4 linked regions of the Homo sapiens genome follow. The protein of the gene in region 1 purifies or fractionates together with the protein of each later gene. This does not show direct contact. Each region holds a gene or a part of one and is shown in the gene's direction. Other genes may lie near its edges.

Region 1 (6,286 bases):
TGATTGATCGTTTTAATAAAACTGGAACATTTCCCTTGATGAACTAATAGAACACATCAATTATCTTGAATACAGATTCATATCTCATACTTGCAAGTGGTATCTGCTTTGCAATTTGTATCTAGTGTAGCCCCAGCCTCCCAGAGTCATTCTTCTTCCCTCAGAGACCCAGAGAAAACCTGGAACCATTAGCGACCGGCACGATTAGTGGATTGTCAGGGATATTCCAAAGGCAGCCAGGTGTGAGACACCTTGCCAGCTCTGTTTTTGGGAACACATTCCACATCCCTTTGTATGCCCTGAAGTGGTGAGAGGAAGCACGCACCAGCAAGGCCCACGGGCATCTGCCTATCCTTCTCAATCGGTTCATACGCTGAGCCATTCCATTGTGTATATACAGGGCAGAGGCAAGGGAGAGCGTCCTGGGGCTTTTATGTTTTCTGTCTTTGTGAATTTAGATCTCCTTAGAAATTGTCCAGATCCCCCCAAAGATCATTCGCTAATTAACGAAATGAAATATTAGTTCAGGGTCTTAAAGTTAATAAGGATCTTGAAAACTATATTTAATCCGATTCACTGTAGAGAAACACAATTATTAATGATACTGTGAGATGACATTTTAATAATTTTACCCAGATAGATATGGAGAATAATTAAGTTTACAGTTATCTCAAGTACCAAGGAACAAACCCTTTTAAACATTAGAATTAAATTTACCTGAACACACAATATTTACATTCTCATAATGTTGGCCAATAAAACCAGTAATGAAAATTTGAGAGTTTTCAACTAATTAGGCTTTTCATGAGAACATAACCAAAGTTTGTACATAATATAAAAAATTATGCTTAGAGGGAGAAGACATAGCTATTTTTAAACCAAAATTTTCAAACCAGTCTGATTTGTCTCAAGATTTGCCTTAATTGGAACTATCATAAAATATGCCCTTAGGTACCACATATCAGAGGAGTTTTTATTGGCCTTTTTTTTCTGACCACCAGTTGTCATTCAACAGAGCAGCCAGTTCTGCTAGAAGAAAGGACCCTCCCTCTGTTGTAAGAGGGAAGGAGAGGTGGGAGATTGGAAGATGCGTGGTGTAACGACGAAGGGAAGTGAGAGACGAGGCTGGCAGGTGCAGGAGCCGGGAGAAAAGGCATGAGGGAAGAGTTTGCAGAACGTGGTGGAGGCCCGAAGTCACCATCTCGGGGACAGAAGGGAAACACAGGCTCCGCGCAGGGCTAGGTGTTGTGTCCGTTGGTGATCGCGTGTATGAAGTGAGATGCATTTCTTGAACATGGGCCTTTCTCCAGGATTGCTCAGCCTCTTGTGGGCAGGCATGGAGTGGGCAGGTGATATGGGTCATCCAGGGTAGAGGTTTTGCCAGGTGGTGCAGGAGATGGGCAAAGGAATTGAAGGCATTTGCAAAATAAGTGATTATAAAGTGAGTCCATGTAATTCAGGTTGGCCAAAGGGCAAATTGCAGCTAGAAAGGGGCAGGTGGACTGAAGGGTTAGTGGTGATGGGTTAGGGATGAGGGCAAAGACCTGAATGGCCGGGTGGGCACTGGGTTAGTGGTGTAGGTTTGGGAGACCTCCAGGATCATCTAAGAACTGGGGTAGAGAGAAAATTGAGAGCCAAGAACAAGTCTTCAGTGAGTGGGGGTGTGTCTCCAGAATGTCCTCAGATGACACAGAGAAAAGGGGGAAAGGCTGGTGAAGCTGGATGACATTGGCCTCCAGCAGAAAGGTCAGTCTGGAGGCAGCGATGGGACACAGTCCCCACCCACTGCCCCTGCAGTCAGAGGACTTAAGCAAGAAATGGCCTTTCATCCAAAAGCCAGCAGAGGCAGGAGGGTCAGGTGATGAGGGGACTATTGCCAGCAGAGTAGATAGAGCAGGTTTTACTCAGGGTAGCCCAGTGGAACCAGTCCCCGCCCGGCGGTGGAGCGGCATCCCGGTGTCCTGACTTGGGCCAGTGGCGAGTGGGCAGTAGCAGGCGTTGGTAAAGCCAGTCTGCCCTCTGCTGAAGTGTTACTGCTGAGTCATTCAGTTCTTTCAGCTGATACCTGTTCAACACCTCCTGCGTGCCAGGCCCTGCCAGCCGTCGGGGTGGGAAGAGGCATCAGACGCAGCTGCCCCCTGCTGTAGGGCACTGGGTTTCCATGCGGAGCCCCTGAGAAAATACAGTACTCAGCAGCTGGGTGCAGTGGCTCAGAAGAAGGAGTTCTGGTGTAAAAAAAACAAAAAAAAACAGGCTGGGCACAGTGGCTCACGCCTATAATCCCAGCACTTTGGGAGGCCAAGGCAGGTGGATCACCTGAGGTCAGGAGTTCGAGACCAGCCTGGCCAACATGGCGAAACCCCGTCTCTACTAAAAATACAAACTTAGCTGGGCGTGGTGGCAGGTGCCTGTAATTCCAGCTACTCGGGAGGCTGAGGCAGGACACTTGAATCCGGGCTGTGAAGGTTGCAGTGAGCCAAGATTGCACCATTGCACTCGAGCCTGGGTGACAAGAGTGAAACTCTGTCTCAAAAAGAAAAAATAAAAATAAAAAAAACAGAAAATGAAAACCACTGGTCTAAGAGAATCTGCTAGAGTCTTGAGAGGAAGACTTCCTTCTTCCTGGCAAGCCCCAGTTTCCTTTTTCAGAACTAAACTCATGCTGCCTCTTGTTTTGCCCGTCCCTGCCCATTTCCAGAGTTCGGCGTGTACTGCAGCCACTGCCGGAGTGAGGTCCGTGGCACGCAGTGTGCCATCTGCAAAGGCTTCACGTTCCAGTGTGCCATCTGTCACGTGGCTGTGCGGGGATCGTCCAATTTCTGCCTGACCTGTGGGCACGGTGGCCACACCAGCCACATGATGGAGTGGTTTCGGACCCAGGAGGTGTGTCCCACCGGGTGTGGGTGCCACTGCCTGCTTGAAAGCACTTTCTGAACCTACAGAAGTTGGGTATTGTCTGAAATCCCAGAGGACCCATAAGTGCCGGTGACAAGCTGTCTGTCAGGGGAGAGGCTCCAGAACCTGGGTTCGTCCCCAGTGAGACCGGAGGATGATCCCCCAAGGACTGCGCAGCATCAGCTCTTGGTGGGCCTCTGCCTTCTCTTCTGTTTGGCCACCTGGTGTGGATGTCACTGTGTGAAGATAAGGACAGAAGTGCAGAGCTGCGCTTTGTGTGTTGTCTATGTCGGCTGAGCTACCAAGGTGGAAGTTTTCATGGAGAAAAGCACCTGGCTCCAGGGCCAGTGTTACAGTGTTACCCTGTAAGGTGTTAGCCTTAAACCACCGAGCAGCGTTCTCTTGATGCCAGTGCAGAGACCAGAGTCAGATGCCCGAGGACAGTGGGTAGGAATTTCATCAACAAATGGACCTATGGCATCATGGCTTTAGAAGCTGGTACATTTACTGAGCTGATGGACAGTGGCCTTCTAAAATATGACACTTAAATTGTAAATATGCACTGTACTTAAGGATTCTTAAGATGTATTTTTTTGTTATTTCTCCTCCAGCTGCTATCCCTTGGCTAATAAAATTCTAGTAATTTGAAAAAAAAAAAAAAGAGAGAAAGTTAAACAACATTATGGTGAATCATTTTTTACCCTAATTCTAATTGAAGGTAGCTATTTTGAATAGGACCAAAGTCAGTGCTCCGATTTTTAAAGGAAATGCTGATTTACTTTTGTCATCTGACAAGAGAAAATGGAATTTGACATTTAAGGTTCTTCCTAGCCCCAAGAGTCTTATTTCTTCTAGCAAAAGGAGGACAAGATTGCCGTGCAGCATGGATAGAAAAGTCTCCCTGGCCAGGCCCCATGGCTCATGCCTGTAATCCCACACTTTAGAAGGCAAAAGTGAGGGGATCACCTGAGCTCAGGAGTTCGAGACCAGCCTGGGCAACATAAGGAGATCCCATCTCTGCAAAAAATTTAAAAAATAGGCCGGGCACGGTGGCTCATGCCTGTAATCCCAGCACTTTGGGAGGCTGAGGTGGGAGGATTACCTGAGGTCAGGAGTTCGAGACTAGCCTGGCCAACATGGTGAAACCCCATCTCTACTAAAAATAGAAAAATTAGCCGGGCATGGTGGCGGGCGCCTGTAATCCCAGGTACTGGGGAGGCTGAGACAGGAGAATCGCTTGAACTTGGGAAGCAGAGGTTGCAGCGAGCTGAGATTATGCCATTGCACTCCAGCCTGGGTGACAAGAGTGAGACTCTGTCTCAAAAAAAGAAAAAAAAAATTAAAAAAATAGCCGGGTGTGGTGGCACATGCCTGTGGTCCCAGCTACTTGAGGGGCCGAGGTGGGAGGATCACTTGAGTCCAGGAGGTTGAGGCTGCAGTGAGCCTTGATTGCACCGCTGCACTCCAGCCTGGGCAACAGAGTGAGACCCTGTCAATAAACCAAAGTCTTCCTTGCCTCTGTTCAGATGGGCTGGGTTCCAGTGAGTGCCCTCACTCTTCCTTTAGGCTCCCTCGCAAACTGCCTGTGTTTGCCTGTGTTCTGAGTAGTTATAACATCTGTGTCCACCAATTCTTCAGAATGATTTTCTTTTTTAAAGTTAAATTTTTTTTTTTTTTTTTTAGAGAGAGAGACAGGGTCTCACTCTGTCACCCAGACTGGAGAGTGGTGATGCAATCATAGCTCACTGTAGCCTCTATCACCTGAGCTCAAGTGATCCTCCCACCTCAGCCTCCCGAGTAGCTGGGACTACAGGTGTGCACCACCATGCCTGGCTAATTTCAGAATGATTTTCAACTTCACATTTTGTATGTGCCAGTGAAAAGAAATCTTTTTTATTATTTCTACTGAAATATCTATTTCTGTTTCTTAGAATTTTACAGTTCCAAGTAGATTAGCTTAGGGACTAGGACATGTCTCATAATGGGAGAGCATTGCATATTCATGTGTTTCAAACTCCAGGTCAGGACCCATTAGTGGATTGTGACATTGATCTAGTGCGGAAAACCAGCATTTAAAAAAATGAAATGGTGTAAGAGAAAAATGATCACAATGTACCATACATAGCTAAGGAAAATGTTTTGTGTAACTTGTTTACGTGTGTGCAGCACATGTGTGCACAGGTGTATACCGGATCATAGCGTAAATTCATTTCTTACTGAAAGTTGTAGTCAAAACATTTTCACAACACTGTTTTGGATGAAGCTTATACCTCGTCCCCTGTGTTACTGGGCACAAAACTTCAGGATGTAAGAAAGAACTGAGATCCTGTGCAGTGGAACCAGAGGTTTAGTGCTGGGCTCTGGTCTGAGGTAAGGTGCCAGTGTCTCAGTAGCGTGAGCAGGGCGGGGGAGCCGCTGGGAGGATGACAGGAGAAGGCCCAGCCGGGAATTTGCATACACAAATTCTGTTGTAATGGTGATCACAGAATAGGTTGGCTGATTTACACAGAGAGAAAGGATCTGTTGTGTTCCTCAGTGAAATCACACCATTTGCAGAGAGCAATCTTTTCCTGTTCCCCACTGCTCAAGTTAGTGTAAAAACCTGTCCCTATCTGTCCCCATCAAGAATGAGATGTTTTTCTTGTTTTATTGTTGGAGGAACATTGACTTTCAAAATTGAAAAACCTTAATGGTGTGAAGAAATTTCGAGTTTAAAATATTACATAATGTCATCCTTCAATACGGAAATTCCTTTTGAATTTCCAAGTTACCAGAACAAAAGTCTAATATTTTAAAATATTCATGTTTGGAAACAGGTTGGTTGTCTGGTTGCGGGCCATGGCCGATATTCTCTCAGCCGCAGAATAGATGATTACAAGCACCTGAGTCTTTTGTTTGTTTATTTGTTTTTAAGAGCAATACAAGGCCAAGTGGGGTGGCTCACGCCTGTAATGCCAGCACTTTGGGAGGCCGAGGTGGGTGGATCACCTGAGGTCAGGAGTTCAAGACCAGCCTGGCCAACATGGCGAAACCCTGTCTTTACGAAAAATGCAAAAATTTTCCGGGTGTGGTGGCGGTTGCCTGTAATCCCAGCTACTCAGGAGGCTGAGGCAGGAGAATCGCTTGAACCCGGGAGGCGGAGGTTGCAGTGAGCCGAGATTGTGCCACTGCACTGCAGCCTGGGTGACAAAGCAAAACTCCGTCTCAAAAAAAAAAAATGAATAAAGGCAATACAAGCTATGTTTGAAAGTACCTTTGCAAGAAAACAGGCCCAGCAGTCGTATTTGTGCACCAGAAACAAAAGGTTGCTCAGGCAGGATACTGGAAAGGATGGGGGAAGGGGCGAGCCTCAGGGCAACCACCAGGTTGACTATTTGTCCCTGTCCCTAAC
Region 2 (7,286 bases), on another chromosome or scaffold:
TCTGCACTCTTATGAAGTTCCCGCACACACTGAATATGGCTGACCTGTGAAACCATGGGATGTTGCAAAATTGACAATATGGGACTTCTGTGGCTAGGTCATAAAAGACATTGGTGGTTTCTACCTTGCCCTTAGATCACTTGTTCTGCTGAAAACCAGCTGCTGTATCATGAGGACACTCAAACAGTACTATTGAGAGGTCCATGTGTTAAGGAACTGGGGCCTCCTGCCAAGAGCCTGCACAAACTTGCCAGCCGGGGCTTCTCCAGCCCTGGCCAAGCCTTCATATGATTTCAGGCTCATGAGAGACCCCAAGCCAGAACCACCCAGCTAGGACGCTCTCAAATTCCTAACTCACAGAAACTGTGAGATGATAAATGTTAATTGTTGTTTTGAGGAGAGAGGCCATTTCTCTTACTGTCTCTGAAGAGAAGGAAGAAGTAAAAGCTGAAAAACAACAGGAATGAAGTCAGTGGCAAGACCAACTGATGCCACTTACCAGGCCTGAGGTTAAAGATTAACGCCCCCACCCTAACCACATGTGTTACCTATAGATCACTTGCTCAATCTATCACAACCCTTTCACGTGGACCCCCTTAGAGTTATAAGCCCTTAAAAGGGCCAGGAACTTTTTCTTTGGAGAGCTTGGTTCTTGAGACACAACTCTGCCAACGCTCCTGGCCGAATAAAGTCTCTTCCTTCTTTAACCTGGTGTCTGACAGGTTTTATCTGCAGCTTGTCCTGCTACAGTTTTAAGCCATTAAGTTTGGGAATAATTTGTTACACAACAAAAGACAACTAATACAGACCTACTGGGAGGGGAGGAGCCACAGTATTTTGCAGTTCTTCCAATCAGGAGGTGAAGTCTACAGTCTAGCTCTCCACTCTAGAATTTGGATTTGGCTGATGGGTCATTATAGAAAGATTATAGATGTAAGGCTTAAAAAGTGCTTGTGCTGGCAGGGCGCAGTGGCTCATGCCTGTAATCCTAGCACTTTGGGAGGCCGAGGTGGGCAGATCACCTGAGGTCAGAAGTTTGAGACCAGCCTGCCCAACATGGTGAAACCCCATCTCTACTAAAAATACAAAAATTAGCCAGGCGTGGTGGCAGGCGCCTGTAATCCCAGCTACTCGGAAGGCTGAGGCAGGAGAATCGCTTGAACCCGGGAGGGGGAGGTTGCAGTGAGCGGAGATTGTGCCACTGCACTCCAGCTTAGGTGACAGAGCAAGACTCCATCTCAAAAAAAAAAAAAAAAAAAAAAGTGCTTGTGCAATTGAGTCTTGCCCTCTCTTGCTCCTGGGAACTCTGCAATTATCACCATGTAATTTAGCTAGGCTTGTCTGCTGGAGACACGTGGTCCCATCATCCCAGCTAACAGCCAGCATCAAGCAGACGAGAGTGAGACCATCCCAAACTTTCCAGCCCAAGCTGAACTGGCCCAGAAAAGCTAATCCACAGGATCATGCGAATTAATCAATGTTTGTTGTTTAAAGCTATCAAAGTTTTAGGGTAATCTGTTACACAGCATAAGCTAATTGATACAGCATATTTACTTTGTGTGCACCTCCCGCCTCAACCTCCCCACCCTAACCAGGAAACTACTGATGTGTTACAAGAACACTACAGGATGTGTTCAAAGCCTGGTTACCTCCTAACTTTACCTAGTCTCAGACAAGTTAGTTTGCCTCTTTCAGCCTCAGTTTTCCTCATCTTCAAATTGGAGATAACAGTAGGTAATAGCACCTAGCTCTCTTTTTTTTTTTTTTGAGATGGAGTCTCGCTCTGTCGCTCAGGCTGGAGTGCAGTGGCACAATCTCGGCTCACTGCAACCTCTGCCTCCTGGGTTCAAGCGATTCTCCTGCCTCAGCCTCCCGAGTAGCTGGGATTACAGGCACACGCTACGATGCCTGGCTAATTTTTCTATTTTTAGTAGAGACGGGGTTTCACCATGCTGGCCAGGCTGGTCTCAAACTCCTGACCTCAAGTGATCTACCCGCCTCGGCCTCCCAAAGTGTTACAGGTGTGAGCCACCACACCTGGCTGTACCTAGCTCTTAAAGTTCATGTGACAATTAATTGAGATGAACTACATAATGTGCTTAGCACACAGTGCTCAAATAAATCATTAATGAAGGCAACAGGAAAAAGCCAAAATGAGTAGATCTCCGGGGTAAGGCCTGAGTTGGTTCTTCAAAAGGACACTCTTACCAAAGAAAGGCTACCAAGTATATCAGTCAAGTAAACATTTACTGTTTGCCACATTCCAGGTCCCTTACCTGAAACTGTGACCTAAAAGCAGGAATAATTCACGGCACTGAGCTATTTTGAAACAGAACCAAGCTTGCTTATTGCACAAGTAACTAAAATAGGACATCAAAATATTTTTCTTGTTTTTATTTTTTTGAGACAGTCTTGCTCTGACACCCAGGTTGGAGTGCAGTGGTATGATTACAGCTCACTACAGCCTCACCCTCCCAGGCTCAGGAGATCCTTCCACTTCAGCCTCCCAAATAGCTGGGACCACAGGCATGAGCCACCATGCTGGGCTAATATTTTTAATTATTTTTGTAAAGATGGGGTCTCCCTATGTTGCCCAGGCTAGTCTCAAACTCCTGGGCTCAAGTGATCCTCCCACCTTGGCCTCCCAAAAGTGCTGAGATTACAGGCATGAGGCACTGCATGTGGCCCAGAAAATATTTCTGAATGGAACTTGAAAAAATGGATATTTTGGTCTATACTTCACCAGCCCCACTGAGCACTCCAGAGCCAGATGTGAAGGGAAGAGGGTAGCCAGGGTATCCCATAACTCTCTTTCTGTATCCTGTCTTTTCCCCACCAGGGAGTAGGAAAACATTCTATCCTGAAAACAAGATTATTTCACCTCTAAACAGTGACTTTTAATTATTTTGATCTCAACCCACAATATGAAAAACACATCATATTGTGTCTGAATACAAACTCAAAACTGAAACAAAAGTTTCATCAATTGAGACTTGAAATGTGTGATACATTCTGGGTTTTTTTTTTTTTGTATTCTATTTTTTTTTTAAATGTTGATCACAATTCTCTATAAACGGATTTTAAAACCTATTGACAGGCCACAACCAGCTGTTCGAAAAAAAGTACTTTGAAATATCACATGGGGGAGGAAACGCAGAGATCATCTAGTCCAATCCCTTCACTTCACAGGGGGTAAACTGAGTCTCAGAAGATCAAGTCACTTGCCCAAGGCCACGCAGCTAGTAAGTTGCTGTGGTTGGATTTGACCGTAATAACCATCGGCTACTGAATGCCCATCATGTGTCAGCCATTTGCTGAGTTTTTTCTTTTTTTTTCTTTTTGAGACAGAGTCTTGCTCTGTCGCCAGGCTGGAGTGCAGTGGCGCGATGTCGGCTCACTGCAACCTCTGCCTCCCGGGTTCAAGCGATTCTCCTGCTTCAGCCTCCCGAGTAGCTGGGACTACAGGCTCGCGCCACCACGCCTAGCTAATTTTTGTATTTTTAGTAGAGACGGGGTTTCATCATGTTGGCTAGGATGGTCTCGATCTTTTGACCTCGTGATCCGCCCGCCTCGGCCTCCCAAAGTGCTGGGATTACAGGCGTGAGCCACCGCGCCCGGCCTGCTGAGTTCTTTAATTGCATTATTTCATTTAATACTCACTGTGATCCTATGAAACAGATACTATTCTTTCCACCTTACAGACGGGGAAACGGAGTCTCAGAATAGGGGAAATGACTTAAGGTGTCACAATGGCCAGTAGCAGACCCAGGAGTAGTCTTTAGGTCTGGCCGTGCACAAAGCCCCATGCTCTCAAGCTGTAACCCCGCTATCAAGAAAGTGGTTATGCAAGTGGGCCTGTGAGCTCTCAACGTCTAAGCCGTGCGCATGTGAGACAGCGATAAGCTCGCGTTCTCCAGTCTCCAGGGCCTTATCATTCCTCACGCTTTCCTTCATCGGCTCGCAAAGAAACGTGGCGATCAAGGAAGACAGCGAAGGCTCCATCCTCGTCGGGGGAGGATAATTCGAATCTCAGCCTGTGAGTTTACTCAGCACACCTGTTTAATCTCTTGGTCCTTCAGTTTCCACACCTAGGAAGCTGGAACAGCAGCAGCATCCAGCGCCAGGACTGGAGTCATATACGAACTCTGGCACCTGGGAGGCGCGCGTCCTACGTCAGTTCCGCTCGACCCCACCCCCCCCGCCCCCCCGCCTTCTCCCCACGCGCATGCGCCGCGCAGCGGCGCTTTTTACGACGCGGCAGGCGCGGCGCGCTTAGTTGCCGGAGCTGAACGGCGCGGAGCTGGTCTGAGGCGAGCCGAGCCGAGCGAGCGCGGCGGTGGGGCCGAGAGGACGCGCAGGTGGCGGCGTTGCCATGTCGCACGGTCACAGCCACGGCGGGGGTGGCTGCCGCTGCGCCGCCGAACGGGAGGAGCCGCCCGAGCAGCGCGGCCTGGCCTACGGCCTGTACCTGCGCATCGACCTGGAGCGGCTGCAATGCCTTAACGAGAGCCGCGAGGGCAGCGGCCGCGGCGTCTTCAAGCCGTGGGAGGAGCGGACCGACCGCTCCAAGGTGGGCCGCCTGGGGCTTGGGGCGGGCGGGGCAGGGTGCGTGTGGGGCCTCGGGCCGTCGGTCTACTCATTTCTGATGTTAAGAATAACGACAGCCTGGTTGCCAAGCGCTTTTCCGTGCCTGTCTCCTGCCAGCTCTTTGGGAGGCGAGCAGCGTTGTCTCCCCATTTTGCATATAGGGAAACTGAGGCCTAGAGGGAACGGGGACAGTTTTGTCAAGCTACACAGCCTAACGCTCTATTCCAGGGCTGTGTGGGCTAGAGAGGATGGTCGTGAGGGCCGTTGGACCATTGGTGCTAATGGCTGCCTCATCATATTACCTGGTGAAGATGAGCCTAGGGAGATGAAAGGTGGTTCCCATATAGAGCAAATGTTCTTTACATTGTGGGGTCGCAGGCCCCTTTGCTATCTGTTTGAAAGCAGTGGACCTTCTTCTCAGAAAAATGCACATAAACACCTGCCTTTCAGTTCACACTTCAGAAGGCTCTTCGACCCTGGAAATTCATTCATGGGCTTTTTGTTAAGAACCTTCCAGTTGGGTGGCCTGTGGCTGTTATGACACTGGATAAGACTGGTTAGCTTCAAGTTAATAAGTCTTGGAAAACCAAGGGAGAGTGACTCTTCCCATTGCACCCCAGTTGTAGAGCAGGGTGGGAGATGCCTGAAATTGTAGGCTCTCAGCAAATATTTGTTGCTTTCTCCTCCCCCCTCCCCATCCCCTCCAGTTTGTTGAAAGTGATGCAGATGAAGAGCTTCTGTTTAATATTCCGTAAGTATCTCCTTGGTGCCTACCTCAGGCTAAATAGGCTGTACCCAGTTGCCTCAGATGGATTCATTCACTGGTGTCAAGAGCACACATTTGCTTCTAGAAATGGGATAAATTACTTTGGTGGGTTTGAGGAGGAAAGCATCATAGCTTTCTTGGTGCAGACTGGAAACAGATGTATTTGTAGAACAATAACTGAGAAATTGAGGTAGATTTCTTAGAATTGTAGAATGCTAGAGGTAGACAGGATCTTAGAAATTATCTAGTACAAGTTGACAGATGAGTAAACTGAAGCCCATACAGGGGAAGGGTCTTGCCCAGGGTCACACAACTAAACAGGTATTCAAACTCAGGTTTGACAACCTTCTCTTTTGCATTCTGGCAGATTTACGGGCAATGTCAAGCTCAAAGGCATCATTATAATGGGAGAGGATGATGACTCACACCCCTCTGAGATGAGACTGTAAGTGGCAAAGGCTTAGGCCCTCAAAGGAGCTCCTAATTCTCTTTTTCTGGTAACATTTTATTCCAGAATAGTATCATTTTCTTCTTACCGGGTTTAATATTTCCCCTTTTAAAATATCTTGGTCCTGTTCTCATTCTGCATTGGAATACATATATTTCTTCCTGAATTAATGACTTTTTTAGATTAAGCATCTTTAGGCCCAACAGCGTGTCTCATATTTCAAAGTGCTTACTATGACATGATTCATTCAGAGAGCATTGTGTAAATGTCACTTGTTGATGACTCTGCAGTTTTCTTAATAACTAGCTGCAGATCTCATATGATCTTTATGGATTCTAGGGGTTAGCTTCAACATTTTTCCTTGCTATTTCATACAGTAATGATCTTATGTGTTTTGTTGACATGGAATTGCTCCACCTGACTTTGCGTGGCATTTAGTTAGCAAAGTTGTGTATACCTCTTGCAACACTGAATCTTTTGCCACCAGAGCTAGTACCCTTTTTGACAACTTACCTTATTCCAGAACAGCCTTCCTAAAAGAAGGGGAAAACTGCTTTCTGAGTGCTGGAGAAACATATAAGAAGAACTTTACATTTAAAAAATTCAGTCCGGGTGCAGTAGCTTATCTCACAAAACCAATAAAAGATGATATATAGGCTGGGCACAGTGGCTTACACTTGTAATCCCAGCACTTTGGGAGGCTGAGGCGGGCGGATCACCTGAGGTTCGAGACCAGCCTGGCCAACCTGGTAAAACCCCGTCTCTACTAAAAAAACAAAAATTAGCTGGGCCTGGTGGTGCGTGCCTGTAATCCCAGCTACTAGGGAGGGTGAGGCAGGAGAATTGCTTGAACCTGGGAGGCGGAGGTTGCAGCGAGCCGAGATCTCGCCACTGCACTCCAGCCTGGATGACAGAATGAGACCCCATCTCAAAAGTAATAATAAAAACAAATAAATAAAAAATTCAAATCCTAAAGGCCGAGCATGGTGGTTCACACCTGTAATCCCAGCACTTTGGGATGCCGAGACTGGTTAGGAGTTCAAGACCAGCCTGACCAAGATGCTGAAACCCCGTCTCTACTAAAAATACAAAAATTAGCCGGGCATGGTGGCACACGCCTGTAATCCCAGCTACTTGGGAGGCTGAGGCAGGAGAATCGCTTGAACCCAGGTGGCAGAGGTTGCAGTGAGCCAGGATCGTGCCACTGCACTCCAGTCTGGGTGACAGAGCAAGACTCCATCTCAAAAGAAAAAAATAATTCAAATCCCAGCACTTTGGGAGGCCGAGGCGGGCGGATCACTTGAGGCCAGGAGTTCAAGATCATCCTGGTCAACATGGCGAAACCCTGTCTCTACTAAAAATACAAAAATTAGCTGGGTGCGGTGGCACAGGCCTGTAATCCTAGCTACTGGAGAAGCTGAAGCATGAGAATCACTTGAACCGCGGAGGTGCAGGTTGCAGTGAGCCAAGATTGCACCACTGCAT
Region 3 (7,024 bases), on another chromosome or scaffold:
AAAGCTTTTCCCTCTTTTGGTAAGAAGTAACCAAGTTCTGAAAGAAGCATATCATGCGGCTTTCCCAATTGCCAAGTTATGATGACACAAAGTCCAAAATGCGTGTAAAGGTTTTTGACCAAGTAGAAAAGCAGAGAACCCCAACCAGTATAATGTGTCAGAATGCTTTTTCTCTTCAATTGTAAAAGCACCACAACGTTCAACATCTGGAAACCAAGAAAATAATGAAAAGAACCTTTTTTCATGTGTATAATATTTTAAAACTTGGTTACATGTTATTTTTTGGTATTTCTAAAGTCAGAGACATTTTAGAAGTGAAATCCCTAGTAGGCTATTGTTTTACCAAGCACACTGAAGTTCCTCGAATACCGTTGAAGATGAGCTAGACATTTGTTCTGAGACGTGTCTGGACATCATGTGGTTGTGTTAGTCATCTTGTTGATACTTGTTGTTAATTTGGTAAGAATACATTGACTACATACTCTCCCTTACTACTTTTTATTAGCATTCATATTAATCTTATTTCAAATCAAGGTTACAGCTTCATGTCATTTGTAGAGTCAGATAATCCTAGAAAGGCTTGTAAGAAAGAAGTGCCAACATCCTTCCCCTAATCATGTTTCCTCCCCTGCAGAGTATCTACTTCAGCCTTAGTAGATTTCCTTGATCTTTGCCTCCAACTCTAAAGAGCATATTTGCTTGACGTCTGTATTTGTGTCTCCTACCCCTGTTTCATGTGATGTCTCTTCGCTTGACACTGAGAATAGGTAGGAAGTTCCTAGCTTTCTTTCACCCTCTGCCTTCTCAGTGCAAACGGATCCATGGCTGCCCAAAGTGATATATCCTTAATTTGGTTAGTTCAGTATTGATTGTTTATATTATGACTACATATTGCCATTTACAGCTGGACGAAGTGGTATAATAGGATTGTTTTCACTTTTCTGGATAACTTTTTGTTTTCCTGGGTTATTACAAGTCTTATTTGTTTTTGTTTGCTTGCTGCTTGCTCAGTTTTCTATATTTTGTCACTACAATTCAACCCCAAATTCTGAAGCAATTATCTAAATCTTTCAAGAAATTGTCCGTTTTCTTTTGAAGAAAATTAGTATTCCTATCATTTTATCTTGAATAAATCTCTCCCAGCGCCTCCAATCTGCTGCAGGCTTGTCTGTGCCTGAAATCTTCCTGTAACTCTCCTCACTCCCTCTTGTGTTGGAGCCTCACTTTTCTGGAACCTATGTCATTCTCTTGATTTGACTGTCTCACTTCGATGGAGCACATCCTTCACTAGTTGCCTGAGAAGTGCATGGCAGATGAAGTTTTCAGAATTTGTATGTACGAAAGTGCCTCGTTCTGCTCTTATCCTGAGTAGGAATTTGGACATCATTTTGCTCCGCGGTCTCTAAGTTTCCAGTGTTGTTGAAGTCTTAAGCCGTTCTGATTCTCTTTTATTGATACGTAACATTTTTAGAGCCTTTGTGTGTGACTATGTTTTCCTCCATGAAACCTGAAGGTTTTTGTTTCTTTTTTTTCTTCTTTCTTTCTTTTGTTTTTTTTTGAGACACAGCGTCTTGCTCTGTTGCTCAGGCTGTAGTGCGGTGGCGCTGTCATAGCTCACTGCAGCTGCAATCTCCTGGGCTTGAGTGATGCTCCTGCCTCGGCCTCCCAAGTACCTGGGACTACAGGCATGCACCGCCACACCTGGATAATTTTAAAAACTTTTTGTAGACATGAGCTCTCTATGTTGCCCAGGCTGATCTTGAACTCCTGGCCTCAAGTGATTCTCCTGCCTCAGACTCCCGAAGTGCTGGGAGTGAAGGCTTTGCATCTGGCCTCAGAGGCTTTTCTTTCTGTGAAATTCAGAACTCCCAGAACAGTGATGTCCCTTGGAGACTGTTTTCATCCATCGTCTTGCCTACTCTTTGGTCCTGTTTATTTGCAACTCATGTTCTTCAACGCTGGGCATTTTTTTGATTTATTGCTTTGATTTCTTCCTATTTGCTTTCTCTCTCTCTCTCTAGAATTCTACTCTTGGACTTTCTGGATTGGCACTCATAATTTTCTTAAGGTTTCTTTTTCCCCCCTCTAAAATTTTTGTTTTTGTTTTTATCTTTTAAATTGTAAATTGACAAATTATACTTGTACATATTTAGGGGGTACAAAGTGATGTTACGATTTATGGATACAATAAATAATAAAATCAAGTTAACATAATTCATCACTTCAAATACTTTAAGTTTTTTGTGGTGAAAGCATATGAGATTACTGTCAGCACTTTTGAAATCGACATTATTATTTACTATATTCACCGTGCTGTACAATATATCTCATAAAAGAAAACCACATTCCTCCTGTCTAATTGATGTTTTGTACCCTTTGGTTTTTCATTTTCTTTCTGGAAGTTATTCTCAAGTTTGTCTTCCAGCCCTTCTACCAAGGTTTTTCTCATTTCTAAGAGCTTTTTCTTGTTCCCTCTATTCCTATTTTATAACCTATTTTTTGTTTCATGAATGTGGTATCTCCTGTTAACTGTTGGAAGATATTGATGAGGTTTTATTTTTCCCTGTTTTCTTTTTCCTTAAGTCACTATTGAGGCTGCTCTGGTTTGTTGTGGGTTTTTGGCTTTTGTCAGCCTTTTCTGGGCTATGCAGTGATGTTCTTGTGCCTGCTCGTGAGTCAGAGGGCCTCTGAGCCTGTGTCTGTGGCTGACTGTGGCTTTCACTGCAGAGGCACCTGGCTGGGCCATTTCCTTACAGCACCCTTGTCAGCTTCTTTGGGTTTCTTCAGATTCCCCAGAGAAATATCTTGTAGCCCTTTGCCTGGCTGAGTGGCCAAGTGAGGAGAGAGGCCTGGGAGCACAGCAGTAACCATAAAAGAGCTTACTTCCCTCTTTTCAGAATTGTTTCCCTCCTCTGTAACTGGTGTCCCCAGTCCAAAGATTCTACTTCCCTTTGCAGACAGAAAAGCGATACCTTTTTGCCAGGATAGGAGAGGGACTGTGCAGGTTGGCTCTGTGTGGCTGTGCAGAGTTGTGGGGTGCATCTTAGGGATCTTCGTGCCTTTTAAACCTATCAGCCAACTCTGTTTTTAATTCAGGTCTCCTGGCTTCCAGTCATATTGCCAGTTGGCCTTCCCCATTGCCGATACAGGATTCAGCCCTTTTAGGTCTGTTTCCAGTTTCTAGCCTCCAGTATTTTAATGTTCTTATCTCTATTCTTATTCTTTGCTTTCGTGATTTGTATCTTAAAAAAAGAAAAAATCGTTTACTATCATTTTAGTGGTGCTTCACGAAGTAGTGTAAATGTATTGATCTGACAACGGCTCGTGCTGGAGACACTGTTCCAGGAAGTGGGACACAGTAAGGAAAATGCAAGTGTGTTCTCCTGCACTTTCACGGAGGTCACGTTTTGGTAAGCGGTGTCAGGCAGTCAGCAGACCAGCAGATATGCAGTATGTCCAATGTGGACAAGAAGAAAGGAGGAAAATAAAGTATCGAGGGGAGTGGAGTGGGGGACACAGTGGCAGTTTGGCATAGTGGGGAGGCCTTGCTGATTGAGCGACAGTTGATTCAAACTTGAGATGAGCAAACAAGCCATGGGCAGCGATCTGGGGAAGAGCGTTATAAGAGGAATGGACAGGAGGTGAAAAGCACGGGGGCAGGACTGTGTTGTGCACGTTAGAGGAATGTGGAACACCAGTTATTAGACCAGTGTGGAGCAGGACCAGAGGGTGTAGGAGACGGGCAGGTCAGGGAAGAAGCCGGGGCTCCTAGCAGTCGGATCTTGATGCCTTTGGAGAGCTGGAGCAGAGTGACCCAGTACTGGTGGTGGATCGTGGTGAAGTGACCATGGGCCACACCATTCACGACATTTCTTACTTTTCCTGTCACCTGTAGGAGGCAAGTATTGTTGTTATCACAGGTCGAGGTAGACCCTGAGGCAAAGGCTAGAGTTAGTGGTTTGGCTCCAGTTTGTGCCTTCAGCTACTTCACTGCTTCCCTAACCTGGCCTTGTCAGTCAGCCTCAGTCTACCATCTACCCAGGTCTGCATACCCCGCAAAACAGTATACACTTTGACGCTTTTCTGCAAGCACAATTACCTTTTGGGGGAGCCCTTCTCTTAAAGCAGAGTAGGTTAATGTTTGTGAATGAAACGGAACTTTGGCAGGCTGAGGTGTCTCAGGTCATCAGCTTACGTTGTCTACTGTGTGACTAATTGAGGCAAAAGATGTCCTTTTTAATAGTATTTTCTCATCACTTTTGCCTGGGTGCCCTTTAGGAATGTTATTTTTGGCATACAACTTGAGTTTCACTTAAATTTATAATTCTTTCTGTTCATTCCTACTGCTCTGTTGCCCAGATGTGGATTTTGCTTTGTCTCACAAGCGTTGCTGAAACACTGGTAGAAAGGTGGACGACGGATTGGTTGTGATTAGTTTGATCTTCACAGTACAGAAATTCAAAAGGTCAATAAGCTCAACAAGATTGCTGTCTCACTGATGATCAGAGTTGCCATTAAAATCGTATTTCCCGCACATCAGGCTGGAAAAAAGAATAAACATGATCATTTTAGTTGTCCTCAAAGGAGAAGAGGACAGGTATTCTGTAATCAGGTGTTGTGAGTGTAACTAGTTAAACTCTTTGGGAGGTGGGCAGTTTTACCTTGGCAATATCTATCAATGCATTGCCTGTCATCATATAATTCCATTTCCAATTCAATTTATCCTGTGGGGGTAGAGGCCCAAGTGAGCAGAGGATGTTCTTTCCAGCATTGTTTATAATCGCAAAAAAAAAAAAAAATTAGTTCAAGGGTCCTATCAGTAGGGGATTTATTAAGGTATGTTTACTCCACTCAACATGTAGTTGTTAACAAATGAGGTAAATTTGTATTTGGTACTCGGAAAGATGGCCATGGTGTCTTTTCAAATGAAAATAAGTGTAGCAGATGGTGAAAGAATGCATGTAAGATCCTATTTTTATTTAAATCATGTATTAAAATTATAATTAAAGTATAATTAAAATTACAGTTTTGAAGATACAGTTTAGAATATATTTTTTGGTAAAGCCTCATGGGGGGGTTGCCAGTTTTTACATTGTTTTGTTGAGTTATCTTTTAGAATATTTTTAAAGCTAAAAAATCAAGTTCCTTGGTAGACCATCACTACAGCAAGCCCACTGCAGTATTAATCTATTAATACTGTCAATGTTAATTAAACCATTATTCGTGTAGCCCCTACCCATCCCATTCCAGTCTCTCAGGAGGCTTAGCTGTATCCCAGAGACCCCAGTGCTATGACCGCAGGTCTCTCCTGGGGCAGGAAGAGGTAAGAAGTGGCTGATGTCAAAGTCAACAGTCAGCAAGTGGCGTGAGCAGTCTCGATGAATTCTTTCAAATAAGCGTTTTTCAGATCCACTCTAGGGCTTGCCTTTTCCCTCTGTTGTAGTCTCAGAAGTTCTTGAGGTAGACCTTGTGAGACCTGCAGCAGTACTTGCTGTCTTAGGTACAGAAGGCAGGATATTGATTATTTCTCCCTGACTCAACAAAGAGTTGAGATGTTTATCCAGGTTAGGATGACACTGCCCCCCTGTCCCCCCCGCCCCCCAAAAAAGAAACAAAAATGAAAGGATGGTGTCTTTGACTGTACTGGGAGTCAGGAGACCTCACTTCAATTTTGGGCTTTTCCTCGTTTTTTTTTTTTTTTTGAATAGGTTCAGAGCTACTCCCTGGACCTGTTCTTATCAGCCTTATGACTTGGGGACTTGGGATACTTTTTTTTTTTTTTTTAATTTATTGAGACAGAGTCTCTCCCTGTCACCCAGGCTGGAGTATGACAGCATGATCTCCGCTCACTGCAACTTCCGCCTCCCGGGTTCAAGCAATTCTCCTGCCTCAGCCTCCTGAGTAGCTGGGACTACAGGCATGCACAATAGTAGAGATAGGGTTTTGCCGTGTTGGCCAGGCTGGTCTCGAATTCCTGACCTCAAATGATCTGCCAGCCTCGGCCTCCCAATGAAGTGCTGTGATAATAGGCATGAGCCACTGCTCCCAGCCTGACTTGGGGTACTTTTTGACCTGTAGGATTTCAGCTCCTTTCTTTTAAAAATAAGAAAGCTGAGGCCAGGCGCAGTGGCTCACGCCTGTAGTCCCAGCACTTTGGGAGGCTGAGGCGGGCAGATCACCTGAGGTCAGGAGTTCGAGACTGGCCTGACCAACATGGAGAAGCCCCGTCTCTACTAAAAATACAAAACTAGCCGGGCGTGGTGGCTCATGCCTGTAATCCCAGCTGTGGGAGGCTGAGGCAGGAGAATTGCCTGAACCTGGGAGGCAGAGGTTGCAGTGAGCCGAGATCACGCCATTGCACTCCAGCCAGGGCAACAAGAACAAGACTCCATCTCAAAAAAAAAAAGCTGAATCTCTGAGTGGGTTTTTCATTTTTCATTTTTTTTTTTAAACAGATGCCTCAGAACCTGGGTAACTCAGTTTATCAGAAATTCAGTTTTCAAGTTTGGAAGGATAACACTTGGAGCTGGTAGTCACTCATAAAACATCTGATTTTGTGATCACGTTTAAGAATCCATGAATGATATAAAAATCCTCACCTATTAAAACTTTTTGGCCGGGCGCGGTGACTCACACCTGTCATCCCAGCACTTTGGGAGGCTGAGGTGGGTGGATCACGAGGTCAGGAGATCGAGACCATCCTGGCTAACACGGTGAGACCCCGTCTCTACTAAAAATACAAAAAATTAGTTGAGCATGGTGGCGGATGCCTGTAGTCCCAGCTACTCGGGAGGCTGAGGCAGGAGAATGGCGTGAACCCGGGAGGCGGAACTTTGCAGTGAGCCGAGATCACGCCACTGCACTCCAGCCTGGGCGACAGAGCGAGACTCCATCTCAAAAAAAAAAAAAAAAACAAATAAACAACTTTGTATTCATTGCTTCCTATATACTAGTCATCACGCTATTTATTTCTAGCAGTGGTTATCACCAGGGTGATTTTTGTTACCCAGGGCACATCTGGCAG
Region 4 (7,981 bases), about 75 Mb from region 1:
GTGTCCACTGGTGGTTTCTGGCCTGAATTCCAAGCTCCAGGCACGTTCTGTGCCTGAGCAGCTGAGGCTGAGCTCAAAGGGTGTCTGGCCACTTACAAGCCACTGGACACTCAGCAGAATGCCGGATTGGGCATCTGCAAACTCTCCCATGAGAGTGGACCCTCGGTGACCCTGAACAGGCTAATTTGCCTTGTGAGTCCTAGTTTCACTGTTTTCACCTCTAGGATGGGGATTAGACTAGCCCCCACCTCAGTGTTGGGAGGGCGCTCAGGAACTTGCAGCATGAATTTTAAATTATTTCTATTACTACTGTGTGTGAGTGGTTCTCCCTGGTGGGGCAGCAACACTCAGCTGAGAAGGTGGAGGTGTCCAGGCAAGTCCCAGATAGCGTCTGTGAACCCCACCCGGCCCTCCTGCAGATGGCGGTGGCCCTTTGAGGCCCAGACCAAGTGGCAGGACCGATAAGGCCTCCTATCCTGCCAAGGGCAGGCCCAGGCTGGGAGGAAGGGTCAGGGGTTTCAGTTTCCAAAAATCTACTTACCGTCAAAAAAGCAGGTCATGAAACAGCTATTTAAAGGTAAAATGAGGAGACTTGGAGGTGTGGGGTCTTAGCAGAGAAGAGCCTGAGGATGTCCCCTGTAGCAAATGGAGGTTGGCCCTGGTGCTTCATTGTCCAGGAGACCCTGGGAGAACTTAGAGCTGGGACTCACTCAGGGACCATCTGCTCTGAACCCTGTTACTGGTGGGGAAACTGAGGTCCAAAGCAAGGCCCACTGACCCTCAGGCCAGCGTGTGACAATGATGTCTCATTTCTGTCACAGCCAATGAGGTGCAAACATGGACATGAGGGTGGCGCTGGGATCCAGAGTGCTGCTTCGAGGGCAGGGACGCACCCAGGACCTCTGTGGGCTGGGGTCATGGTGAGCTCCCTGCACTTTCACCAGTTCGAGCTCTCATTATGACTGACGATAGTCAGAAGAATGAACAATGAGTGCCAGGGTTACTGGCAGGAGGCCAACCCTGAGAGGGTAACCGGGGGAACAGTGGGATCCTTTGAGCCCAGAGATGTCCAGTCTGGAGCCCCAAGGTTCTGCCCATTGGGGCAGCAGCACGATTAGGTCAGAAGAGCGAGACCTGAGTCACAGTCCTGCTCCATTCGCATGGTCGCTGTGAGGGTCCCTGTGAGGAGGCCTCCATTACCACCACCGGCCACTGCCCTGGGTTCCCCCACCCCCATCTGTCCCATCTCACCCCTCCAGCCTCAAGCCCTGCTCCTGCAGTCTCATTTCCATCCCAGAGGCACTCCTGGGAAGTGCGGGAGAACTCACAAACCTTTTGATTATACATAAAATCAAAACATGGACAACGGGGATAAAGCCTTGCAAAATGTGTAGCAGAGGTTATGTATTCCTCAGAAAGAACACAGCCAGACCATCCAAGAACAGACCACCTGTAAAGAAAACAAGAAAAGCAATTCTCTGCAAATAATTAAGTGATGCAGCTCTCCCTCTCAATCAAAGAAATGCAACATAGAACAAGACACCATTTTCCTTTCTGGGAATTTCAGGAAAAAAAAAAATGTTATGCAGGCCGGGCACGGTGGCTCACGCCTGTAATCCCAGCACTTTGAGAGGCCGAGGCGGGTGGATCAAGAGGTCAGGAGATCGAGACCATCCTGGCTAACGCGGTGAAACCCCGTCTCTACTAAAAATACAAAAAAATTAGCCGGACGTGGTGGCGGGCGCCTGTAGTCTCAGCTACTGGGGAGGCTGAGGCAGGAGAATGGTGTGAACCTGGGAGGTGGAGCTTGCAGTGAGCTGAGATCGTGCCACTGCACTCCAGCCTGGGCGACAGAGCAAGACTCCATCTCAAAAAAAAAAAAAAAATTAGCCTGGTGTGGTGGCGGGCACCTGTAGTCCCAGCTACTTGGGAGGCTGAGGCAGGAGAATGATGTGAACCTGGTAGGTGGAGCTTGCAGTGAACTGAGATTGTGCCACTGCCCTCCAGCCTGGGTGATAGAGCGAGACTCTGTCTCAAAAAAAAAAAAAAAATGTTATGCAGCCCTGTGCAAGAAAACGCACCTGTTGGTACTGTTGAGCCATTTCAAATGCACGTACCCTTCACCCTGGTGAGGCCAATCCACAAATTTGTTCTGCAAAATACACATTAGTGTCAGTGTTGGTGCAAGAGGGTTACTTGCAACAGTGAAAATGCTCATCCCTCAGTCAAGTGGTTAGGTTCTGATGCATTTGATGTGCTTGGGAAAGTTCTGGAAGCAGCCAAAGAAGCTCATTACCTTTAGTTACCTCCTGGGGAAGCCTGGGATAGGGTAGGTGGGGTGATTTTTTAAAAAACAACTTCATTGAGATATAATTTACCATACCATACCAATTTGCATACCATAAAGCTTATCCACTTCAAGTGTACACTTCCATATCTTTTTTTTGTTTTTGAGATGGAGTCTCGCTCTGTCGCCCAGGCTGGAGTGCAATGGTGCGATCTTGGCTCACTGCAAGCTCCGCCTCCCGGGTTCACACCATTCTCCTGCCTCAGCCTCCTGAGTATCTGGGACTACAGGCGCCCGCACCATGTCCAGCTAATTTTTTGTATTTTTAGTAGACACGGGGTTTCACTGTCTTAGCCAGGATGGTCTCGATCTCCTGACCTCGCGATCCGCCTGCCTTGGCCTCCCAAAGCGCTGGGATTACAGGCATGAGCCACTGCGCCCGGCACTTCCATGTCTTTTAGTGTATTCGCGTTCTCAGAGCTGTCCAACCATTACCACAGTCAACGTTAGAACATTTTCATCACTCCCCTTCAAAAAACCCATGAATCGCTCCATATTTCCCCTGACCCCCTGGAAGCCCTAGGCAGCCACTAATCATTCTGTCTCTATGGATTTGCCTATTCTGGGCATCTTATATAAATGGAATCATATATTAGTGTGTCTTCAAGATGGATTCATGTGCCGTACTTCATTCCTTTTTATGGCTGAATAGTATTCCCTTAAACAAACTATACCATATTCACCCATTCATCAATTGATATACCCTAGGATTGCTTCCACTTTGGGCTATTATGAATAATATTACTAAGAACACACATGTTTTTGTGTGGACATATGCTTTCATTTCTCTTGGCTATATATCTAAAAGGGGGATTTGCCGAGTGTTGTGTTAACTCTAACCTTTCAGGAACTGCCAGCCTGTTTTCCATAGCGAGTGTAGCCTCTTACATTCCCACCAGCAGGAGAGAGATTCCCGTTTCTCCACACCCCTGCTGACGCTTGTCTTTTTGATTACAGCCATCGTAGGAGGTGTGATGTGGCATCTATTTGTAGTTTTGATTTGCATCTCCCTAATGCCTAATAATGTTGAGCATTTTTAATTTCTGTTTTGCCCAGGCTGGTCTGGAGTTCCTGGCCTCTCAGCGCTGGGGTCACAGGCGTAAGCCTCTACCAGTTGAGCTGAGCATCTTCTGGTGCTTATTGGCCATTTGCATAATGCACTGGAAAAATATTCATATCCTTTGTGCATTTTTCAATTGTCTTTTTATTGTTGAGTTGTAAGTTTCCTCCATTCTAGATACAATTCCCTTATCAGATATGTAACTTACAAATATTTTCTCCCGTTCTGTGGGTGGACTTTTAATTTTCTTGATGGTGTCCTTTAAAGCACCGAAGTTTTTGTTTTGTTTTGAGATGGAGTCTCGCTCTGTCGCCAGGCCAGAGTTCAGTGGCACGATCTCGGCTCACTGCAACCTCCGCCTCCCGGCTTCAAGCGATTCTCCTGCCTCAGCCTCCCGAGTAGCTGGGATTAGAAGCAGGCGCCGCCAAACCCAGCTAATTTTTGTATTTTTAGTAGAGAGACGGGGTTTTACCATGTTGGCCAGGATGGTCTAGATCTCCTGATCTCATGATCTGCCCACCTCGGCCTCCCAAAGTGCTGGGATTTCAGGCGTGAGCCACCGCGCCCGGCCGCAGTAAAGTTTTTAATCTGATGAAGTTTAATTTATTCTTCTGTAGTCGCTCCTGCCTTTAGTGTCACTGCCTCGCCCAAGGTCTCAAAGATCTCCTGTCGGCTTCCAAGTGTTTTTTTTTTTTTTTTTTTTTTTTGAGACGGAGTCTCGCTCTGTCGCCTAGGCTGTAGTGCAGTGGCGCAATCTCGGCTCACCGCAAGCTCCGCCTCCCGGGTTCAAGCGATTTTCCTGTCTCAGCCTCCCGAGTAGCTGGGATTACAGGCGCCCGCCACCACGCCCGGCTAATTTTTTTTTTTTTTTTTGTAGAGACGGGGTTTCACCATGTTGGCCAGGATGGTCTCGAACTCCTGACCTCGTGATTCACCCGCCTCGGCCTCCCAAAGTGCTGGGATTACAGGCGTGAGCCACCGCGCCCGGCCTTTTTTTTTTCTTTTTTCTTTCTTTCTTTCTTTTTTTTTTTTTTGATACGGGGTCTCGTCGCTCTGTCGCCCAGGGTGGAGTGCAATGGCGTGATCTTGGCTCAATGCAACCTCCGCCTCCCGGGTTCAAGCGATTCTCCTCTAGGATTACGGGCGCCTGCCACCACGCCCGGATAATTTCTTCTAATTTTTAGTAGAGATGGGGTTTCACTATGTTAGCTAGGATGGTCTCGATCTCCTGACCTCGTGATCCGCCCGCCTCGGCCTCCCAAAATGCTGGGATTACAGGCGTGAGCCACCGCGCCCCGCCCAAGTGTTATTTGTAAAACGAAGAAACCAACATCGAGAGGGACGCTGACTCGACCCCGCGCCTTTCCCATCCGCACCAGCAAGAGGGGCCCCTGTGCCCCAAACGCGAACCGTACGGCTCCAGACAGCACCGCGGAACTCGGTGGCTTCCAGAAGGCCCCGCGCCTGCGCATTCCGCTGCCTGCGCCTGCGCCTGCGCCTGCGCCGTTCTCCCGGCCGCCGCCTTAGCACCTCCTCCGGACGGTGTCGCCGAAGTCTCGCGAGCCCGGAGCGTGGCACGTGGGTTGGTAACTGTGGCGCTGCTCCGCGTCCACCACCACCCCTGTCCTCCTCAGGCCCCCTCCGCCTCCACCCCTGCCCTCCTCAGGCCCCCTCCGCCTCCACCCCTGCCCTACTCAGGCCCCCTCCGCCTCCACCCCTGCCCTCCTCAGGCCCCCTCCGCCTCCACCCCTGCCCTCCTCAGGCCCCCTCCGCCTCCACCCCTGCCCTCCTCAGGCCCCCTCCGCCTCCACCCCTGCCCTCCTCAGGCCCCCTGCGTCCCCGCCTCGTCCTCCTCAGGCCCCCTCCGCCTCCGGCTCCGTCCTCCTCAGGCCCCCTCCGCCTCCGGCTCCGTCCTCCTCTGGCCCCCTCCGCCCCCGGCCCCGGCCCCACGGCGGGATGCGGGACAACACCAGCCCCATCAGCGTGATTCTGGTGAGCTCGGGGAGCAGGGGCAATAAGCTGCTGTTCAGGTACCCCTTCCAGAGAAGCCAGGAGCACCCGGCGTCCCAGACAAGTAAGTGAGCGCTGGGCGGGGGCCTGGCGCTCGCGGGGGCCGCCTCATTCCGGGGTCGCCTCATTCCAGGGCCGCCTCGCGGAGCTTAGCTTTTGCTGGGCATTCGAGATCTGCTCGTTGTAGAGTATTTGAAAAGTAGAAAAAGGAAAAAAAAAATTAAAATCATGCATTGTTCACCACACCAAAGCAACTACTGCTGACATTTCATCAGTCTCCAGCCTTTAAAAAATAAAGTAAAATAAAATAAAATGAGTTTGGGATGTATTCATCATGAGAAAATACAAAATTACACGAACAAGGCCGGTGGCGGTAATCCCAGCACTTTGGGAGGCCGAGGCGGGTGGATCACCTGAGGTCAGGAGTTCGAGACCAGCCTGGCCAACATGGTTGAAACTCTGTCTCTACTGAAAAAATAAAAATAAAAAAAAACAAATTAGCCGAGCGTGGTGGTGCGTGCCCATAATCCTAGCTACTTGGGAGGCTGAGGCAGGAGAATTGCTTGAACCCGGGAGGCGGAGGTTTCAGTGAACCGAGATCGCGCCACTGGATTCCAGCCTGGGCAACAGAGCAAGACTCCGTCTCAAAAAAAAAAAAAAAAGTTACGTGAACATCTGAAGTTGTCTTTGCCACCCCCAGTTCTAGCAAGCACAGGGATCACCCCTGGCCGTGTTGGGAGTTGTCTGCCCTGTGCATAGATGCAGATCTATCCACAGGAAAAGGGAACGTCGCGTGAGGTTTTTCATCGCACGAATTGTTCTGTGGCGCCCTTTTCCCATAGTCGGCCTTGGAGCTCCGTCTGCCTTTGCAAGCAGGGATCAACCTCACCCTTGGCTGCAGGCTGCTGCCTTCCCCTGTGGACGGCATGTAGGTTACTTTTGATTTTTCATCATCATGAATGTTCAGTTTTTGTTTTTATTTTATTTATTTTTTGAGACGGAGTCTCACTCTGTCGCCCAGGCTGGAGTTGAGTGGCGTGATCTCGGCTCACTGCAGCCTCCACCTCCCGGGCTCAAGGGATTCTCCTGCCTCAGCCTCCCAAGTAGCTGGGGCTACAGGGCATGTGCACCACACCCTGCAATTTTTTTTTTTTTTTTTTTTTTTTTTAGTAGAGATGGGGTTTTGCCATGTTGGCCAGGCTGATCTCGAACTCCTGGCCTCAAATGATCTACCTGCCTCGGCCTCCCAAAGTACTGGGATTACAGGTGTGAGCCACCGCACCCGGACTGTTCAGTTTTTATTTTGTATTTTGTTTTAAAATTATTTTTAAACTTGTTGATATGGCAGAAAGTTTTAAAGATACAAAGGAGTTTAGATTATGAAAAGAAAGTTCTTTCCTACTATTGGCCCCCAGCCCTCAGTTTCCATCATAGGGGTAACTACTGTTCCCATTTTTCTGTGTCTTTCCAGGACCTTCTGTGTCAATACAGGCGTATGTATTTCTTTTTTCTTTTTTTTTTTTTTTGAGACGAGTCTTGCAGTCTTGCCAGGCTGGAGTGCAGTGGCGTGATCTCGGCTCACCGCAACCTCCGACCCCCTGTCAAGCAATTCTCCTGCCTCAGCCTCCCGAGTAGCTGGGACTACAGGCATGCGCCACCATGCCCAGCTAATTTTTTTTTTTATTTTTAGTAGAGATGGGGTTTCACCATGTTGGCCAGGCTGGTCTCCAACTCCTGACCTTGTGATCCGCCCGCCTTGGCCTCCCAAAGTGCTGGGATTACAGGCGTGAGCCACCGCGCCCAGCCTGCACTTGTGTTTTTTTTCTAAGCACAAGCAAAGTCACACCATACACACTGTTCTGCCCCTGTTTTCGTTTTCACTTCATGTCTGCATCTTTGATGTAGATCAGAACCTGTCGAGCACCCTTGTCCTTCTTACCGGCCACGGTGAATTCCATGAGATGAACATATTGTGATTTGTTTATCGTGTCCTTTTGGTTGATGGACGCAAAATTGTTTTCAATCTTTTGCTAATACGAAAAGTTCAAACGTTCTTTCCAGGTATTGTCATTTTGCAGAATTCTTGTAATATTAAATCCCCAAAGTAGCATGGTTGGGTCTAAGGGATAAAGAGCATATTTATTTTTAATAGGTTAGATTTTTCAATCTTTGTTAATCTGGTAGGTGAAAAATTATATCTGGTAGTAATTTTAATGTTTATTTGCCTTTTAATTGAGATAGAAAGCATATTTTCCTGTTTTTGGAGCCATTTGGATTTCCTTTTCAGTGAATGACTTATTTATAACCTTTGCCTAATGTTCTCTTGGGTTGTTTGATTTTTTTTCCTTATAGATTTGAAGGAGTTCTTTATATATTTAATGTAAAAATAGGTCTTGGGACAAAGCTATAGTCACCCTGTTTGCTTCTGTGTAGTTCTTGCCAGAGTTTTGATTTTTGTGGAGTTTTCAGTCTAATCTCTTGTGGTTTCTGAGTTTTGTTTTAAATGGAAAGGCGTTTTGCTCTCCAAAATTATTAACAACAACAATAAAAAACTCCCTTATTTT

The links.
Region 2: the proteins of WDR59 (region 1) and PITHD1 purify together in Homo sapiens (affinity purification with mass spectrometry; 2 studies listed by BioGRID and IntAct, with this or other methods). This does not show direct contact.
Region 3: the proteins of WDR59 (region 1) and HDLBP purify together in Homo sapiens (affinity purification with mass spectrometry; 2 studies listed by BioGRID and IntAct, with this or other methods). This does not show direct contact.
Region 4: the proteins of WDR59 (region 1) and NPRL3 purify together in Homo sapiens (affinity purification with western blotting; 3 studies listed by BioGRID and IntAct, with this or other methods). This does not show direct contact.

What each region holds. Positions count from the first base shown.
Region 1 is NC_000016.10:74,870,857-74,877,142, reverse strand, and holds the end of WDR59 (GATOR2 complex protein WDR59), read left to right. Parts: intron 1-2,698; coding exon 2,699-2,934; 3' UTR 2,935-5,781; downstream 5,782-6,286. UniProt on the Homo sapiens protein: As a component of the GATOR2 complex, functions as an activator of the amino acid-sensing branch of the mTORC1 signaling pathway. The GATOR2 complex indirectly activates mTORC1 through the inhibition of the GATOR1 subcomplex.
Region 2 is NC_000001.11:23,774,144-23,781,429, forward strand, and holds the start of PITHD1 (PITH domain-containing protein 1), read left to right. Parts: upstream 1-4,274; 5' UTR 4,275-4,372; coding exon 4,373-4,570; intron 4,571-5,294; coding exon 5,295-5,338; intron 5,339-5,720; coding exon 5,721-5,798; intron 5,799-7,286. UniProt on the Homo sapiens protein: Promotes megakaryocyte differentiation by up-regulating RUNX1 expression.
Region 3 is NC_000002.12:241,305,650-241,312,673, reverse strand, and holds part of HDLBP (vigilin), read left to right. Parts: intron 1-7,024. UniProt on the Homo sapiens protein: Appears to play a role in cell sterol metabolism. It may function to protect cells from over-accumulation of cholesterol.
Region 4 is NC_000016.10:135,650-143,630, reverse strand, and holds the start of NPRL3 (GATOR1 complex protein NPRL3), read left to right. Parts: upstream 1-4,957; 5' UTR 4,958-4,989; exon of another isoform or gene 4,990-5,296; 5' UTR 5,297-5,363; coding exon 5,364-5,481; intron 5,482-7,981. UniProt on the Homo sapiens protein: As a component of the GATOR1 complex functions as an inhibitor of the amino acid-sensing branch of the mTORC1 pathway.